Homo sapiens: one gene and its partners. The protein of the gene in region 2 interacts with the protein of the main gene of each other region in a pairwise test. Each region holds a gene or a part of one and is shown on either strand. Other genes may lie near its edges.

Region 1 (3,500 bases), on a different chromosome or scaffold from region 2:
AAGTAATGTTCTAGTTCTATCTTCACAAGAAATCAGCAGTTTAATCTTCAAGGGCTGAGATGCAGCAGGAAACTGGAAGAATAGACCAAGTAAAGAATTCAAATGAGCTTGCTCACATTAAAGAGGCAGCAAGACTCATCACTCTATGAACAAAGACTCAGGAATCTTTAGGACTAAAGGAGACACTCATTGTCCACCAAACAGCTAGATCTAGGCATCCAGGCAACACAGGCTCCAGGGGAGGTCCTCATGATAATAAGGACTACATCATGCCTCCAGTAACCCCTGCCATACCGTAGAATTATAAAAAAGTTGGTAAAGATTCTACAAGTTGAGTCATTTTGATATTTAGCAAGTTATTCCAGTTATGCTTCTTTTAATTCTATGAATCTCAGAAATATCCCAGAAAGTTTTATGAACCATCTCTTTAAATCTAGGCAGTGTAGGAACTACAAAAGCAGTAAATATTAATATACATTTCTAGTTTATTCTCAATTATTTTAAAATGAATCAACAGTTTACAATTATTTTCTATCTATATTATTTTGATAATTTAGAAAAATATTTAATAGATTAGCTTCAAAGTTACCATTCTTATTTCAGTTTTTTGCTCAATATTCTATAGTAACAAATGCAGGCTAGGACATCTGAATCATATGTTAATAAAAGTTTAAAAACAAAAGGGGAGAAGACAACCTTTATTTAGCACATCCACTCCAGGCTACATGCAATGTAACATTCATTATTTCATTTATTCCTTATAATATATTTAGGTGGAGAAAATGTGTACCAGATGGTTTGGTGTGAAATTATACCTAAGTTTCCTAAGAGACAGATATCATCTTGTCCACATTTTAGTTAGGGAAACCGAACCTTAGACAGTTGAGAAACACAGGATCTACTGGACTTCAGAGCCTCTGCTCTCAACCATTAAGCTAATTAGTCAGAAGTCATATCCAGAAGATTGCCTTTGTATTCCATTTTTCTTGTATTGTGAAAACTAGACATTTTAGGCAAAATAAAACTACCATAAAGGGACCTAAACTGTGATATGTCTCCACTTTCCTGTGAAGAGTATCCCAGCACAGGATTCACAGAAACCTAATCCTTTTCAAACGGTGTTTGATGGAAGTGAATACCACTTTTCTGAGGTGCAACAAACAGCTAAGCGGAGAAAAATGATCCCATTGACAATATCAATCAAGATGCAGAGCTAGCATCTGCTTGGCAACTTGACTACGATGTTCTAAAACACTTTAAGTAAAAAAAAAAAAAAAAAAAAAAAAAAGCTTTAGAGAAATAACTCTAGGTGCCCTCTCAATTTTAATAAGATGTTATGACTTCCACTAAGCACATGGAATACATTGTCTTTCTGATCTATGAGCTTTAATATGTTAGTCATGATGACATTTTTTAGCCACCACTCCTTTAAACTTGAAATCTCAAGGTAGTAAGAGAAATTACAAATACAAAATTTTAAATATTTCCAAATGATCTCTTAATTAGCATCAGCATGAATGATACCAGTATAAAGGAAGAAAGGGTAAAAACTAAATACAGGGTTATGGCTGATCACTAATACAAAATTTATATTTGGCCTATAAATATTTTTAAAGACCATTTGATCACATCTGGACCCAGCTTTGAGAAATAGTGCTATATAATAATTAAGAACTGTAATTGTATAATTATAAATTTTTTTATTGGTTTGTTTCTCCATAATATATAGAATTTATGTGTGAGGGTTCAGGTGATCATTAGTACAAAAACACAACAGGCTTAGAATATTACATGATTGCTTCTCCCATAGTTCTTAGAAGTCAGAGTCCAACTTCTGCAAGTGTGGAAGAAAGATAAATGATGAAGAGATAGAATAAACGAATGACACAGACAGCAACCCACCATGTTGACAAGACAGATCAATTTCCCATTACCCTGTCAAATGCTAATGGAAAGCAACCTCCATGTTCCTGCTGCTACACAGATCTTAATTCTAGATGTCAGGAGATCAGAGGGAAAGACACATCCCAAACTTGCCTAGATCTGGCTGTGTAAGAGCAGCATCCTCTGCAAGCATCATCATTCATGCTTACAACCTCACTCTGTGCTAGGAACAGACAGTAAGAGACTGAAGGCTGTGGACAAGGTAAGGAATGACAACTCACAGACTTTGCCTCCATGGGCTTGACCACAAACTTCTCAGCTTGTACAACCCTGCCTCTGCCACAGGCACCAGCAACAATGCAGAGATGCCGCACATTTATAACTCATTCCGAGCCAGCTATGTCATGAAGGTTTTCTTGAGGCTGTGCGTTTATAAATCTGGGACACGTAATCAGAAGCCAGTCAATTAGAGACGCAAATTTAGACCAAACTGAGAAGGTCTGGAGGATGATTTTTAATCTGAGAAACATTGACCAATTATCTATATTTCTCTTAAAACCATTTCTTGGCCGGGTATGGTGGCTGTCATCCCAGCACTTTGGGAGGCTAAGGCGGGCAGATTACCTGAGGTTAGTGGTTCAAGACCAGCCTGGTCAACAGGGTGAAACCCCATCTCTACTAAAAATAAAAAATAAAAAATAAAAAATAAATTAGCCAGGCATAATGACACATGCCTGTACCCCGGCTACTTGGAAGGCTGAGGCAGGAGAATCGTTTGAACCTAGGAGGTGGAGGTTGCAGTGAGCTGAGATCGTGCCACTGCACTCCAACCTAGGAGACAGAGACAGATTCTGTCTCAAAAACAAAAACAAAAACACAAAAACCATTTCTTGACCACATATAAAAAAATTAAAGCATATCAAATACCAAAAAAGCATACAACCTACCTCCATTGGTCCTATTTGGTTGCTGATCTGGAGTTTGGGCTTGAGGTGAATAATACTGTTGCTGCTGGTAATTATTTGAAGGAAAATACTGGGAACTGGGGCTCCTCCTACACTCCCGAATGCTGGAGAAAGTCTGTGAATGGGGAATTCCTCTTTGGAAAGGGGAACATCTTGGAAGACGAGGCTGAGGTGGTGGCAAATGATCAAATTCCTCTTCATCCTCCAGACTGTATTGGTCATATTCTTGATCACTACATGTCCCTTTTTTTCCTGAACTCAATGACACACTGGAACTATGTCTTGATACAGATGCTGAAGTAGAAGCATAATCTTGCCTGAGACCTATAAAATAACAAATAGTACTCTAATGTATTTTGATCTAGCTAACATTTAGTTATAATTAACCAAGTATTAGATGAAAAATTGTGCCAAATAAATTACTCACAGAGACTTATTATCTTGTTCTCAAGTTTACTAAATTGACAAGTTTACCAAGACAATAATCACATTTACCTATGAAACAGATATCTAATATTGGACAATTCTGTTTTGCAAAAAGATTGCCCCAATTCCAGTGAGGATTATATATACCTGCCACAGCTCATTCGTTAATATCTATCAATTTCCCCTTTTCAAATCAAGAGATATTTTAGAAGGGGAACTTAGGAA
Region 2 (3,500 bases):
TAGACTACAATAGATAGTATTGCTTAGTTGAGTACCAAATTTTATTAATGCAGATAATCCAGCTAGTTTAATTTTGATTTAAAACCTTTTTCCTGTCATCCCAACAGCTGTATTTTTACCTATGTGTACAGACATGTTTCATCTCTAGGGTTAATGGAAGTTTTACTATTTTAACGGTTTCTTCCCTCCTTAAAATTCTCTATCCTAGTTATCAGGCAAAAAATGTTTTGGGGCATGCTATTTATCCAGTCTAATAAAGCTAACTGGTAATATTCATCACCTAAAGAGTGATGAATTTAACACAAACAAATTAAACGAATTATTGGGGAGGCAGTCTTTTCTTTTGTTCAGAATTCATAAGGTTTGTGTTGTTAGCATGGTGTATTTTTAAAAGAATGATAAAAATAATCATGTTTAAAGAAATAAATTTACTTTAATGGTACTTTCAAAAAGACTAATCCATAACAAATTAAGTTATACTGTATTTCCTTTGCTACCCAGAACCACAGGGCTGGTTGTCAACACATATTGAAGAAATGTAAGCAAAATACAGAAAGTGATGATTTTCAAAAGGAAGAGAAGAAACTCCTTTTCAACAAACACTTTATATCATTTATTAATGCAGTATACATTAGATCTAAAATCTGCAGTTTCTAAGCACACCATGTTTAGATCTTTCAGATCCTTCTGCAGTTTTAGGTTATTTCTACAGAGGTACCTTTAAGTGAATGAATACCACATTCTGTAATTCCTGAAAATATAGTACAGAGTGAAATGATTTAAATATAATTTAGGCACATATTGATTATGAAAATAGATTATCTCTCAATACAATACTTCTCTGTCTTGGTAAAAATAATAAAGCAAAGAAAATAATTCATTTCTGAAGTTGCTTTCCTTCACTTGTAAAGGTCTGATCTCCTCCCACTATGCATATGTACCCTTTACTGTTAAGGAAAGCTTTGCATATGTAGATATAGAAGAATAAGCTACGTAAATACTAAAGATATGTCATTCTCCCAAAGGAGACACAGGTGGTTTTCAATGATTCCTTGCCTCATGTTGATGAGTCTGTAGAATTCAGAACCCATTTGGACACAGCTAATATCCCTGCTCTTGGGGTAGAAAATAAGGACACCAAGTCATTGGTAGGGAGGTACAGGCCCTTCCTCTGCTGCTGCAGAGAGAGAATGACTCAAGAAAATTGGGCTAAAATTTGTTTAAAAAAAAAAAACCACAAAAAAATAAGTAAAAGAATCACAGGTGCTGACTGATTGATAATTACATCTTGGACCAGCCAAATGCCTTTATTTTTACGTCTATTTTTTTGGTGGCTGTAATCAAATGTGTGTTTAAAATTCCTCATTCCCCACTGTAGGGTTCTAGCTGCAATTATATTACATTGCCTTTTAGCAGGCAACTCTACCATATTCACTCATATAAGCTTTGATTGCAGTAGCTCTGGATTTAGTATCTATTTCTAAGCTGGCCCTATGTAAACTATTTGGTATTTGAATTAAATGAATATTAATGATGCACCTTGGTTTTTTTGGTTTTGAAGTATCTTCCTATGCTTGTGATGACTGTATGAGAAAACTAGGCTAATAGTGTAAATAGATAGAATTGCTTGATCTGGTGTTGAGTGGAACTTGCCTAGAATGAAATTCTGAGAAATTCTCATTTGTAAGTGTTGTAGTGATAGGTAAGTTATTCCTCCATCCAGAGTTACACTGTACCTTTGGAATGACAGTGATGTACAATGATGTCTTTCTTTCCACTCTGTCTCAATCAGTAAGAACTGGATATTACTTTAATTTAGCTACTGTTCTGTCCTAAAAAGTAAACATTATAAAAATGAACCTGAAAAGAGTCTTAGGGAGTCTGATCTCACCATATTCATACGGTGTGACAGGTATTTAAAGAGGGGAGGCATCACTAAAGCTATTTATAAACCTGAACAACCTTTTCCAAGTTTTCATAAAGTTTTAACAATTTAAATATCCATACTGCATCTAGGAATTCAATAAATATAATTGCATATGTTGTGCTTTCCATAAATTAAAATCCTCAAATGCATCTCAAACCAAGATGGTATTTCCACATCATGCCTATTTAAAAGCAAATATAATAGATACTATGCCTGGTCATAAAACCAGGTAAACCCCCCTACCCCATTCAAAAGGCAGCAATATCTAGTTTCCCTACATCTATTAAATGAGTGCTTTTCTGTTAAAAATCAGAATATGGAAAAAAAGTCAGTTTTTTCCCTTATGCACCACTCAAAACAAGCATAATCCTCTAAATGTTTTTTTTTTAAATTTCCTTACAGTGTTATTTCTTCTAGACAACTGAGTGGGTGGAGAAAGAAAAGTGATAAGGAAAACATTTTCATCTTTTACATCTTCCTCCAGCCCCTAAAATTCTCATCTGACACTTTGTGACATGTGTAGTGGTGTCAGCATCTCTTCAAATATAGCTCCCTTCACGTTGGACCCTCTCAGGTTGGCTTCTTGAAGATCACACCCAGACAGATCACAATTCTGCAAGATGAAAACAATATTCATGTAATTCATGTGGAAATTTCAGGCCTTATCTATTTCTGCTCAAAATGATTTCTGGGGCAGATTAGGAAAATGTTCTTATACAATAAAACTCAGTTAATTTCCGGAAAACTGATGATACACCACCCTAAATTAAGATGTTCTTCTATCTTTATTTGTTACCTCTAGTTCAGGCTGATCACCATAAATATGTATAAACAAAGGTTAAAGAGGAAGCATGTCCCTTGTTCTTGCATATTTTATAAGGAGACATTGAAAACAGGGGTCCCCAACCCCTGGGCCACAGACTGATACTGGTCCATGGCCTGTTAAGAATCAGGCCACACAGCAGGAGGTCACCAGTAGATGAAGCTTCATCTGTATTTACAGCCAGTCCCTGTATGGCTCAAGTTACAGCCTGAGCTCCACCTCCTGTCAGATCAGCAGGGGCATTAGATTCGCACAGGAGCGTGAACCCTATTGTGAACTGCACATGTGAGGGATCTAGGTGGGGTACTCCTCATGAGAATCTAATGCCTGATGATCTGTCACTGTCTCCAACACCCCCAGATGGGACTGTCTAGTTGCAAGAAAACAAACTCAGGGCTCCCACTGATTCTACATTATGGTGAGTTATATAATTATTTCATTATGTATTACAATGTAATACTAGTAGAAATAAAGTGCACAATAAATGTAACGCGCTTGAATCATCCCAAAACCAGCCCCCGACTCTGATCTGTGAAAATATTTTCTTCCACAAAACCAGTCCCTGGTGCCAAAAAGGTTGGGGACCACTGATTTAAAATACAGAATGGATTCCAACATAATAAATACACACACACACACACACACACACACACACACACAATTTTTTTTTTGAAACGGAGTTTTGCTCTTGTTGCCCAGGCTGGAGTGCAATCTCGGCTCACTGCAACCTCCACCTCCAGGATTCGAGCT
Region 3 (3,500 bases), on a different chromosome or scaffold from region 2:
TATGGTCACACCAGTTGGCAGATGTGACTCATTTTGGGTCAGCCAGTTACCATGTATAACTTCTGTGTCTGTAGCTCAAATTGTTTGATTTCTAATTTGCTCTGTGTATGTGTGGTGGTTTGGTTGGGAGGACATTTACTACCACTGAGTATATAATGAATCTTACATAAACTGGTTCATTAAAATGTAGGCAATTTAGCATTGTGGTTAAGAGCATAGTCTCTGGAATTGGACTACCTGGGTTTGAATATTTGCTTACTGACTTACTAGCTGGATGTCTTTGGACAAATTCTAAGCTTAATTTCCCTACTTACCAATTTCAAAAAGTTATTATGAAGATTAAATAAGGTAATAATGCAAAGCTCTTACTTTTTTTTTGAGACAGGATCTCACTCTGTCATCTAGGCTGGAGTGCAGTGGTATGACCACAGCTCTCTGCAGCCCCTTGACCTTTCAGGCCCAGATGATCCTTCCACCTCAGCCTCCCTGGCAGCTGGGACTGTAGGTGCATACCACTATGCCTGGCTAATTTTTTGTAGAGATGGGGTTTCTCCATGTTGCCAGGCTGGTCCCGAACTCCTGGGCTCAAGCAATCCTCCCGCTTCTGCTTCCCAAAGTGCTAGGATTACAGGCATGAGCCACCATGCCCAGCCCACTTGTGTTTTTATGCTGCGATTGCTGTTTGGTCAAAGAAGCAATTTAATGGCTATAAGTTAGTTTTTCGTGAGGGATCATTTGTTGTGCTTTTTTTTTTTTTTTTTTTTTTTTGAGATAGGGTCTCGCTCTGTCACCTAAGAGGTGGCACAGTCACAGCTCACTGCAGCCTCAACCTCCCGGGCTCAAACAATACTCCCACTTCAGCCTCCCAAATAGCTGGAACTACAGGCGCCAAGCCACCATGCTGGTATTGATAGGGAAAATAGAAGTAAAATAACATTGAACATATATTATGTGCTAGGATTTTTCTAGATCTACACAGTCCAGTATGGTAGCCAACTAGCCACATGGGGCTATTTAAATTTAAGTTAATTAAAATTAAATAAAACTTAAAATTCAGTTTCTGGTGGAAAATCTCCTGGTAGACTTTGCCTGAATGCTAAATCAACTTTTGTTCTTAAAAAAAAAAATTCTGTTCCTCAGTCACAGCCACATTTCAGGTACCCAATAGCCACAACTATTGTATTAGACATCACAGATCTGGAACATATCCATCATCATAGAAGTTCTCTTGGACAGTGCTATTCTAAATACTTACATATGTATCTGTTATTAAGTATCCTTATTATGACACCATAAGATGTGTGTTATCCCCATTTTACTTACAAGGATGTTAAGTATTTCTCTTAGATATGTTTCCAAAGCACATATATACTATGTTAAAGGTTAAGATTCCAGCTTCAAATATCAAACTCTTTCATGGTGTCTTCTTTATTAATTAGTGGACTAATGTACAAGTGTATTTGTGCATTTAGGGAAACATGAAATGTTCAGTTTTGTTAAAATGTCGAAATTGCACATAGTATTATATAGATAAGTTTGAATATATGTCCATTGTAGGTTTTCAATAAGTGTTTGCTGAAAAAGTGTCATCCAGCTAGGTCTATATATTCTGCTGAGAATATTAATTATGCATTTATACACTGGAAGGGAATTCTTAATGAATGGAATACCGGAAGAAGTATTCTTAATAAATGGATGTTAATTTGTATAGGAATTAAAGGCATGAAATCATCAGAAGACGAAAAAAGACAGATGGGGAAAAAATTCAGAAGCCTTCAGTTTAGTTGTTTATTTAAATGCTTGTATACATTTAAGATGGTCTCTTCTTGTTGGTTAGACCCCAAAGAGCAGAAAAAGGGCTTATACTATGCTCAAGGCTTGCTTTCTTCGGCCAGGCACAGTGGCTCATGCCGGTAATCCTAGCACTTTGGGAGGCCAAGATGGACAGATCAGTTGAGCCCAGGAGTTCAAGACCAGCCTGGCCAACATGGTGAAACCCCATCTCTACTAAAAATACAAAAAATTAGCCAGATGTGGTGGCACACACCTGTAATCCCAGTTACTCAGGAGGCTGACGCAGGAGAATAGCTTGAACCCAGAAGGTGGAGGTTGCAGTGAGCTGAGATCATGCCACTGCACTCCAGCCTGGGTGACAGAGCAAGACTCTGTCTAAAAAAAAGGCTTCCTTTCTCAAATTCTCCTTACAGTTTGACTAATGTCAGAGGATGATGAGTTATGGGGCTATTTCTTTTCTTTTTTTTTTTTGAGACGGAGTCTCACTGTGTCACCCAGGCTGGAGTGCAGGGGCACGATCTCGGCTCACTGCAAGCTCCACCTCCCGGGTTCATGCCATTCTCCTGCCTCAGCCTCCTGAGTAGCTGGGACTACAGGCGCCCGTCACCATGCCTGGCTACTTTTTTGTATTTTTAGTAGAGACGGGGTTTCACCATGTTGACCAGGATGGTCTCGATCTCTTGACCTCGTGGTCCACCCGCCTTGGCCTCCCAAAGTGCTAGGATTACAGGCATGAGCCACCATGCCCAGCCTATTTCTTACTTAAAATGAATTATGTGGCATATTTGATGTAGCCCATCTGAATGCCCTAAAATTATCTCCATTTAACAGATAGAGAGACAGGTATAAACCAGGCAAATCTGGTGTCCTTGGGAACGTGAAATTTTGTGGCAAGGCTTAGAGTAGGATGCTGGCCTCCATGATGTGTAATCGTCGGGTTTCACTGCCACACTGGCCAAAGAGTTTTCATTAGAACTTTTTCCGAAGTGTTTCATGAGCCTTTGGTAATTTATCTTTTTACCTATTTATTTGTAAATGCTTAGCAAGTAAACAGTAGAAATAATAAGTTGAAAAGATATCCAGCCTGATGTAGTGGTTTTCAAACTTTATTCTGTGAAGCTGCTTCAGGATACTCACCAAGGAAGACCAGTGTGCAATGCTTTTTTTTTTTTGAGGTGGAGTTTCGCTCTGTCACCCAGGCTGGAGTGCAGTGGCATGATCTCAGCACACTGCAACCTCCACCTTCCAGTTTCAAGTGATTCTTCTTCCTCAGCCTCCCGAATAGCTGGGACTACAGGCGTGCACCACCATGCCTGGCTAATTTGTGTATTTTTAGTAGAGACGGGGTTTCATCGTGTTAGCCAGGATGGTCTCGATCTCCTGACCTCGTGATCCACCCGCCTCGGCCTCCCAAAGTGCTGGGATTACAGGCGTGAGCCACCGTGCCTGGCGTTTTTTTGTTTTTGTTTTTGTTTTTTTTGAGACAGAGTCTTGCTCTCTCACCCAGTCTGGAATGCAGTGGTGTAATCTCGGCTCACTGCAACCTCTGCCTCCTGGGTTTGAGCAATTCTCCTGCATCAGCCTCCTGAGTAGCTGGGATTACAGGCATGCATCACCATGCCTGGCTAATTTTTGTATTTTTCATAGAGACGGGGTTTCACCATGTTGGCCAGGCTGGTCTCCAACTCCTGACCTCAAGTGATCTG
Region 4 (3,500 bases), on a different chromosome or scaffold from region 2:
AAGGGCAATGATGGCCTGCTCCAGGAATGAGAGCGATTTGTTGATGTAGGTGGCTTCCTTCAGGACTTGGCCCTCAGACTACAAAGCAAAGGTCAGTTCCACTTTGGATGGAATAAAGCAGCTGCCCCACTAAGAATAGCAGTCTTCCTGGTCTGGAGAAATGCTATAAGTCTGTGGTCAGGTCAGCGCCTCCTTCCCAGAACCAGGGTCTTCTTTCAATGTCATGCGATTGTATTCCATCTTGGGCTAATAATGGTAATACCAAAACTCAGAAATATTCATGTGAACACTCATGTGAATACTCATGCGAATGTGAATGCTTACATGAATATTCATATGGACATTCACTCAAAGATTCACACTAATATGAATATGTACTGAAATACTTGTCTAGATATTTGAGCAAAGAATCCTGTGAATATTCACACAAACACTCATGAATGCACATACAAATGCTCATCTGAATACTCTTGTTAATACTTCTGCTAATACACTCATACAAATATTTATTTGAAATACTCATGCAAATACTCATACGAATACTCATATTCATTCACAAAGAAGCCAGGTGTGGTGGCTCACACTTGTAATCCCAGCACTTTGGGAGGCCAAAGCAGGAGGATCGCTTGAGCCCAGGAGTTCAAGTTCAGCCTTGGCAACATAGCGAGACCCCGTCTCTACAAAAAAATTTAAAAATTAGCTGGTCATGGTGGTGCATACCTGTGGTCCCAGATACTTGAGACACTGAAGTGGGATGATCACTTGAGCCTGGGAGGTCAAGGCTGCAGTGAGCTGTATTTGTGCTACTGTACCCCAGCCTGGGAGACACGGCGAGACTGTGTCTCAAAACAACAACAACAAAAACACACACAGAGAAATGCTATACCAGCAAGGAATATTTACTGAGCACTGAGTGCCAGGCACTTTGCTAAGAATGTAGAGGGCACTATCTCATTTAATGTTTACAAAAATCCTCTGAGGTAGGAACCGCCCCCAGGTAATAGCCGTTCCCTTTTTGCAAATCCTGTCCCTCCAGCAAGCCCACATGTCCCACTTCGCCTAGCTCAGGACTGTGTTCACAAATATCCAATGAGTCATGGCCCAGATGTGCAGGCACTGTGCCAGAAAAAGGGCTTGTGGTTTATTGAGTAGCAACCTCCAGCCCCCATCACTTACCCCAGACTTCCCCAGCCTCTCTGAGCCTGCCAGATCCACCAAGTTAATTTTGGAAGTGATGTACTTTTCCTCTGATAAGGTCCGGGAATGGGCCTACAAAACATCCAAGCAGAAGTTAGACTGTCACAGGGAGAAGTTTCTGACTGAGCAGGCCCCGTGGGAATTGACTGCCCCGCCTGGGCTGATCAAAGAGCTTGCACCTACCTCTAAGTAGATGGTGAAAATGCAGTGTGATCTGGAAGAGTTTTTGTTCATAGTGTGGGAGGCTATAATCCTGTTGGTCTCACCCTGAAGAGGAAGGGAATCATAGGCAACATTTCGAAAAACTAAAACGACAAGGCACTTGGGTCATTTTTCAATTATACCAATAGCTACACAAGTGGTCTCATATCACTGCGATCAGCTGGGCCTTCCAGGCAAACCTCTTTTATAAACTAATAGAAAGGGAGTCAAATTGGAGTCCACATCTACACTTTCACCCGCCGCTGGGGAAGTGTGAATTGGTATAGCTTTCTGGAAAGCAAAGTGACAATAAAAATCAAGAGCCTTAAAAATGTTTATGAATATTGAATCAGAATCAACCTGCATGTCCAACAATTTGGGAATGATCTATGTATACAGTGGGATATTGGGCAGCCAGGAAAATGCTGACACATAGTTTTTAATAACAGAGAGAAATGTAGAATCCAAAATCATATTATAGCTGATCTAAGAAATGCAAAAGCATTCATAGAAGAAATAAGCAGAATTCTGCTAATAAGATGTTAATAATAGTTGCTTCTGGGTTGGGGTTTATAGGTTATTTTATCTTTTTTATACAGTTTTGTGGGTTTTTTTTAGTGAGCATGTATTACTATAAAAATAATAATTTATATTTTTATTTATTTTGTGTTCTCCTTTTTTTTTTTTTTTTTGGGAGAGCATCTCAGTCTGTCACCCATACTAGAGTGTGGTGGCACGATCTCGGCTCACTATAACCTCTGCCTCCCGGGCCCAAGCCATCCTCCCACCTCGGCTTCCTGAGTAGCTGGGACTACCAGCGTGCACTACCACACCTGGCTAATTTTTGTATTTTTTGTAGAGACAGGGTTTCACCATGTGCCCAGGCTGGTCTGGAACTTATGAGTTCAAGAGATCTGCCCGCCTCGGCCTGCTACAGTGCTGGGATTACAGGCATGAGCCACTGTGCCTGACCTAGTAATTTGTATTTTTAAAGGGACAGTAGGCCCTTACCTCTAATTTACAGGAGGAGGCCTTATGACCAGAATATACTTAAAAAGGAATTTTTTGTAGAGACAGGGTGGTGGTGTGGTGGAAATGGCTGTTCTTGGAGAAAAAGGTCCTTGAGGGATAGACTGATGTCTCCTTAAATGCTGATGAGAAGTGCTATGAACAAGCCCCAAAGTGAGGGTGGGGGACAGCCCCCCCTGGGGAGAGGAGAGCACCCGCTGAAGAGGGAAGGCCTGAGGCTGTGGAGCAAGCCTAGCAGACTCCTGTGGCCATACCTCTATAGCTTATAGTAGTGAGGCTATAGTCTATGGTCAGGCCTGTTCTACAAATCCAGTGACACTCACCAAGAATATAAGGGGTCACTTCATTTTTCTTCTTCTTTTTTTTTTTTTTTTTGAGATCATTCTCACTCTGTTGCCCAGGCTGAAGTGCAGTGGCGTGATGTTGGCTCACTGCAACTTCTGCCTCCCGGGCTCAAGTGATCCTCCTACCTCAGCCTCCCAGGTAGCTAAAATCACAGGTACAGGCCACCATGCCAGGCTAATTTTTTATATTTTTTTGTAGAGACAGGGTTTCGCCATGTTGCTCAGACTGGTCTTAAACTCCTGAGCTCAAGCAATCCTCCTGCCTTAGCCTCCCAAAGTGCTGGGATTACAGGCATGAGCCACCACAGCAGGTCATTCACCTTTACTCTTCAGTCCCCCTTCTGAAGTACCCTCTTGCCTTGTCTTTCTTTTTTTGTATTTTTAATAGAGAGGGGGTTTCACCATGTTGGCCAGGCTGGTCTCGAACTCCTGACTTCCAGTGATCCGCCTGCCCCGGCCTCCCAAAGCTCTGGGATTACAGGTGTGAGACACCGCGCCTGGCCTTGCCTTGTCTTTCTGGCCCTTTAAAAAAGATCCTGCTATTGACGTTGAGGAAGTAAGTTGCTATGTTGTGAGAAGGCACTATGATCATGCCTGTGAATAGCCATTGCACATGTGCCCATTGCCTGGGCAACACAGCGAGAACTTGCATAAAAAAATAAAGAGTTCCTAGCCTATATGACTTCTAAAAGAATAACATACACTTGACTGATTTCTTTTCTTGTTTTT

The links. The genes of interacting proteins can lie anywhere in the genome.
Region 1: the proteins of KCTD9 (region 2) and SLAIN1 interact in binary tests that used the Homo sapiens proteins (3 or more experiments, as listed by UniProt).
Region 3: the proteins of KCTD9 (region 2) and PSMB2 interact in binary tests that used the Homo sapiens proteins (3 or more experiments, as listed by UniProt).
Region 4: the proteins of KCTD9 (region 2) and KIF9 interact in binary tests that used the Homo sapiens proteins (3 or more experiments, as listed by UniProt).

The regions. Positions count from the first base shown.
Region 1 is NC_000013.11:77,746,187-77,749,686, reverse strand, and holds part of SLAIN1 (SLAIN motif-containing protein 1), read right to left. Parts: intron 3,174-3,500; coding exon 2,832-3,173; intron 1-2,831. UniProt on the Homo sapiens protein: Microtubule plus-end tracking protein that might be involved in the regulation of cytoplasmic microtubule dynamics, microtubule organization and microtubule elongation.
Region 2 is NC_000008.11:25,427,434-25,430,933, forward strand, and holds the end of KCTD9 (BTB/POZ domain-containing protein KCTD9), read right to left. Parts: intron 2,541-3,500; coding exon 2,424-2,540; 3' UTR 414-2,423; downstream 1-413. UniProt on the Homo sapiens protein: Substrate-specific adapter of a BCR (BTB-CUL3-RBX1) E3 ubiquitin-protein ligase complex, which mediates the ubiquitination of target proteins, leading to their degradation by the proteasome.
Region 3 is NC_000001.11:35,624,527-35,628,026, reverse strand, and holds part of PSMB2 (proteasome subunit beta type-2), read left to right. Parts: intron 1-3,500. UniProt on the Homo sapiens protein: Non-catalytic component of the 20S core proteasome complex involved in the proteolytic degradation of most intracellular proteins. This complex plays numerous essential roles within the cell by associating with different regulatory particles.
Region 4 is NC_000003.12:47,265,800-47,269,299, forward strand, and holds part of KIF9 (kinesin-like protein KIF9), read right to left. Parts: intron 1,465-3,500; coding exon 1,381-1,464; intron 1,270-1,380; coding exon 1,177-1,269; intron 79-1,176; coding exon 1-78. UniProt on the Homo sapiens protein: Essential for normal male fertility and for progressive motility of spermatozoa.